Linked DNA regions of Homo sapiens: region 2 is linked to region 1. Evidence: fine-mapped expression QTL. Tissue or cell type: thyroid. Region 1 holds a variant in brackets; the other region holds the start of a gene. All regions are shown on one strand. Distances are from middle to middle.

The links. PIP is the estimated chance that this variant, and not a neighbour inherited with it, causes the effect.
Region 2: ADAM12 starts here. The variant in region 1 is fine-mapped to the expression of ADAM12 in thyroid (GTEx, PIP above 0.99).

What each region holds. Positions count from the first base shown.
Region 1 is chr10:126,749,393-126,752,080 of GRCh38, forward strand. No RefSeq gene overlaps it. Among named protein-coding and RNA genes, the nearest start is that of C10orf90, 80 kb to the left of the region's middle. The variant ACCGCATCTATGCCAACAT/A (reference allele first, on the strand shown) is at 1,185.
Region 2 is chr10:126,387,122-126,389,809 of GRCh38, forward strand. It overlaps ADAM12 (ADAM metallopeptidase domain 12), which reads right to left and starts at 1,356. Exons shown (of 23, transcript NM_001288973.2): 1 at 937-1,356. The coding sequence starts at 1,024.

The DNA.
Region 1 (2,688 bases):
TGAGGAAGAGAGTCTGAAATTGACAGTGAAGCAATCAACCTTAAAAAGTATGGCAGAACAGGCCAGTAGGTGCAGGTCTAGCTCCTGTGGGTTGTGCTGAAAAATGGCAACCAACCATCCAGGCAAGAGGCTCTACAGAGTTCTGATAACCTCCTCTCCAGACCTGCTGAAACAATATGGAGAAATGCCCAGCCAAGAAGAAAGACAGCACTGCCTGGTGGAAGAACATGGGCTTGGAAGTCAAAGAAGCTGGATGTGGGGCCCAGCTCAGCCACTTGCTGGTTGAGTGACAGAGGACAAGTAATTTACATTCTACAGTCTGCAAATCCGTTTCTTCATCTGTGAAATGGGAGGGAAGAAATCCTACCTCAAGAGGTCATTATCCAAACAAACAAGACAATCTGCGTAATGGCTCATGGCAGGGTCTAGCAGAGAACAGGTGGTTGTCAAGTGGCAAGTGTGGCTGAGAGTGGGCTGCAATTCAGTGCCCTGTGTTCTATTCCTTTTTTGTAGAATTTATCATTATTATTATTGTTTTATTTTTCCATAAGTTATTGGGGCACAGGTGGTATACTTGGTTACATGAGTAAGTTCTTTAGTGGTGATTTGTGAGATTTTGGTCCACCTATCACCCAAGTAGTACACACTGCACCACATTTGTATTATTTTATCCCTCACCCCCCCTCACTCTTCCCCCCAGGTCCCCAAAGTCCATTGTATCATTCCTATACCTTTGCGTCCTCATAGCTCAGCTCCCACATATCAGTGAGAACATACAATGTTTGGTTCTCCATTCCTGAATTACTTCACTTAGAATAATAGTCTCCAATCTCATCCAGGTCACTGCAAATGCTGTTAATTTGTCCCTTTTTATGGCTGAGTAGTATTCCATCATATATATATATATATATACACACACACATACATACATACAGTTTCTTTATCCATTTGTTGATTGATGGGCATTTCGGTTGGTTCCACGATTTTACAATTGTGAATTGGGCTGCTATAAACATGTGTGTGCAAGTATCTTTTTCGTATAATGACTTCTTTTCTTCTGGGTAGATACCCAGTAGTGGCATTCCTGGATTAAAGGGTAGCTCTTTAAGGAATCTCCACACTGTTTTCCATAGTAGCTGTACTAGTTTACATTCCCACCGGCAGTGTAGAAGTGTTCCCTGATC[ACCGCATCTATGCCAACAT/A]CCGCTGTTTTTTTTATTTTTTGATTATGGCCATTCTTGCAGGAGTAAGGCAGTGTCGCCTGATGGTTTTGATTTGCATTTCCCTGATCATTAGTGATGTTGGGCATTTTTTCATGTTTGTTGGCCATTTCTACATCTTCTTTTGAGAATTGTCTCTTCATGTCCTTAGTCCACTTTTGGATGGGATTTTTTTTTTCTTACTGAGAAGATTTTCCCCCACTCTGTGGGTTGTCTGTTTACTCTGCTGACTGTTCCTTTTGCTGTGCAAAAGTTCTTTAGTTTAATTAGGTCCCAGCTATTTATCTTTGTTTTTATTGCTTTTGCTTTTGGGTTCCTGATCATGAAATCCTTGCTTAAGCCAATGTCTAGAAGGGTTTTTCCAATGTTATCTTTAGAATTTTTACAGTTTCAGGTCATAGGTTTAAGTCCTTAATCCATCTTGAGTTGATTTTTGTATGAGGATCCAGTTTCATTCTCCTACATGTGGCTAGCCAATTATCCCAGCACCATTTGTTGAAAATGGTGTCCTTTCCCCACTTTATGTTTTTGTTTGCTTTGTCAAAGATCAGTTGGCTATAAGTATTTGAGCTGATTTTGGGGTTCCCTATTCTGTTCCATTGGTCTATGTGCCTATTTTTATACAAGTACCATGCTGTTTTGGTGACTATGACCTTATAGTACAGTTTGAAATCAGGTAGTGTGATGCCTCCAGATTTGTTCTTTTTGCTTAGTCTTGCTTTGGCTATGCAGGCTCTTTTTTGGTTCCACATGAATTTAGAATTGTTTTTTCTAATTCTGTGAAGATGATGGTGATATTTTGATGGGGATTGTACTGAATTTGTAGATTGCTTTTGGCAGTATGGTATTTTCACAATATTGATTCTACCCATCCATGAGCGTGGGATGTGTTTCCATTTGTTTGTGTCATCTATGATTTTTTTCATCAGTGTTTTGCAGTTTTCTTTGTAGAGGTCTTTTGACTACTTCGTTAGGTATATTACTAAGTATTTATTTATTTATTTATTTATTTATTTTTGCAGCTATTGTAAAAGGGGTTGTGTTCTTGATTAGATTCTCCACTTGGTCACTGTTGGTGTACAGAAGAGCTATTAATTTGTGTATGTTAATCTTATATCCAGAAACTTTGCTGAATTCTTTTATCAGTTCTAGGAGCTTTCTGGAGGAGTCTTTAGGGTTTTCAAGGTAAATGATCATATCATCAGCAGAGAGTGACAGTTTGACTTCCTCTTTACCTATTTGGATGCCCTTTATTTATTTCTCTTGTCTGACTGCTCTGGCTATGACTTCCAGTACTGTGTTAAAGAGGAGTGGTGAGAGTGGTCATCCTTGTCTTGTTCCAGTTTTCAAAGAAAATGCTTTCAACTCTTCCCCGTTCAGTATTATGTTGGCTGTGGGTTTGTCACAGATGGCTTTTATTACATTAAGGTATGTCCCTTGTATGCCGATTTTGCTGAGAGTTTTCATC
Region 2 (2,688 bases), 360 kb before region 1:
TTGAGAGCTTGCGGCCAAGGGAAGTCGTTCATCGGTGGACCGACAGCGCCCCGGGCGGCAGAAAGAAGGCGGCGGCGGCGGAGACCCGGGGAAGTTGCCGGATTTTTAAAAAGGCACCTGCTGGGTGAGTCCTCACTGTGCAAACGGGAGCCACAGGTGCCCGATTTTAAGGGGCTACAACTCGGGAAAACCTAAGTCTGTAAAACTAAGTACGTTAAACTAAGTAAGTTCTCGCTGTGCACCAAGTTGATGGGGGCGATTATTTACGGCGGAGAAACTGAGTGGAGGAAGGAGGGAGAATTCCGCTAAAGTTTGCCTGCGACTGACAGCTAGGGAGTGACCTGGAAGCCAGGAAGAGGGGCAGAGAGGAAACTAAAGAAGTAGGTAAGAGAGTCAGTTTATGAAAATAGAGCCTGCTGTGGAGAGCAGCAGGCACACCTGCGGAGGAGGGGGCTGCCTCACCTGCGGGGCCGCTGCGCGCCCCCCTAAGTGTGTTAGCGGGGGAGGCGGGGCTGGAAAGGAAACCTGGTGAAGGGCTGGCCCGGAGCCTGGGGTGGGGATATTCACTGCGGGATAGGGCCAGCAAGAGGACCCGACACGCATCGTCCCGAGTGACACGTGTAAATGTCAAGATACAGAGACATCTGCAAATGTCACCCAAGAGGGTGAGGACGGGGGAGCGGTCCCGAGGCTGTGCCCTCCGGGGCAGGTACTGGCTCCTGTGGGGCTGCGGGCCAAGTGTCGCCCTTCCCCAAGGAATTGGCACCTGGGGGGGGGGGGTCGGTCTCGCCGCGCTGGAAGCGCAAGCCCCGGGGCTCCGGAGATGCGCCGGGGCGCGTCGCCCCTCGGGGCAGCCCTGGACCTCGGCGCGCCCAGGCGCAGCGTGCGGTGCCCTCGGCGGGGCGGGCAGCGAGCCGCCCTAGTTCGGCGACTTACCTCGGGCCTCGCAGGGCGCGAGCAGAGCACCGGCCAGGGCGAGCAGGAGGGCGCGGGCGGGGGACACGGGCAGCGGGCGCGCTGCCATCGTCGCCGGCCTTCAGTGCAGCAGCTCTCGGGCCCGGCGGCGAGCGCTGCACCATCCCACGCGGGCGCCGAGCCGGGGCCGGGCGTCGCGACCGGAGGGATTTCCTGCCTCGGCGAGTCAGCTCCGGAGCCCTCGCGCAGCGCCCGCGCCGCCGCTGAGCTCTTCTAGCCTTTCATTTTTAAAAAAGTTTCCCCCCGTGTGTGTGCGTGCGTGCGCGCGCGCGCGCCGTTCTGGCACAAGCCAGCCTTGACCGTTGCAATAAATGAGCAAACTGTCCGAGTTGGCCCGGGGACTAGGAAGAGCGTTAGTGAGAGAAGGCAGGCCTGTGAAATGGATCCACGGCCAGCAGTCACCGTTCTTATTACCGCGGAACAAATTATTGTCTCCCCCGCACCCCCGCCAGTTGGCGGCGTCCCGCGGGTCCTAGAGACCGCTCGGGTCCCCCCGCCAGGGTCCCGCCCCGAGCCGCGGCTCGCTCACCCCCGAGGGTGGGCGGCTCAGACGTGGCTCAGTGGCGTCCGGGCGCCCGGAGCGCACACGTCCCCGCCCCAGGATGATGTGGCCGCAGGGCCCGGGGCGCCCGGCTGCCAAGCGCACATGCGGCGGCACGGTCCAGCTTTTCAGGCTGAAGCTGGAAACGATGACTCTGCTACTCGCTCCCCGGCTCTCTGGGAACCCTCGGAGTGCGGGTCAGGTCTCCACCGCGGCCCACAGCCCGGCGCGCGACCCCGCCCGGCCCTAAGCGCCCAAAGGGGCATCTCTCGCCCGAGAAACAAGCTTGGACTCGCAGGCACAAGACACCTGGGCGTTACTTTTGATCAACAGTGTTAGGTTTTACGTTGATAGATTGGCTCACGTTTCCATTCCATGACCTGGACCCAGAAAAGGGTGTACAGTGACGTTCCCCAAACTTTCCTGATTGTAAGAAGCACCTGGGTTGGCTTGTTAAAAAGATTCCCGGGCGCCCTCCTACGCTTTCAGAATGAGACTCTCCAGGCTGTGAGGCCAGGGGAGCCCAGGGTGTTTGGAGAAACACCAATGAAAGAATGGTGCGCCTTGCCTTCTCATCCTTGTTCCGGGCTGACCCCACCTCTTCAGCCTCGCTCGGCCCTCAGGGAGACCATGAAAAGCAGCAGCGAGGGGGCCCGCACAGACAGAAATGGCTGGAGCTATGGAGGATGGCTGATGCCCACCCTGCGGGTTACCATGATTCCCAACCTTGGGGACTTATTAGAATAGTAAGAGTTAAAGACATTGCCAGCCCCAGACACCAGTTAACTCAGTTTCCCACAATGCGTGGAGCTCAATAGTTTTCAAAGCCTCAGGTGATTCTACTGTGCTGCTCAGACCTAGGACCACCTGCAGAAATTCCATCCTGGTCCTGCGACCTCGCACCGATTCCTGACGGAGCACCCACTCCTAGGAGGCGGTTATCCAGCATTTGAGGAAGCTGCCTTCCATACCATCTCTTCCCACTGCAGAGGAGTTTTCTCAGGAGTTCCCTCCCACGGCAGGTTTTGCAGTGTTCCCAAAACCCAGGTCGATCCTCCTAACAAGGTGCAGGACTTTCTTTTTAAAAAACCTTAGTGGGAAGCACAGGCTCTCCAGCCCCCTTCCCAATGCTGCCATATCTCAGTACCAGATCTGGAAACCAGGCCTGGTTC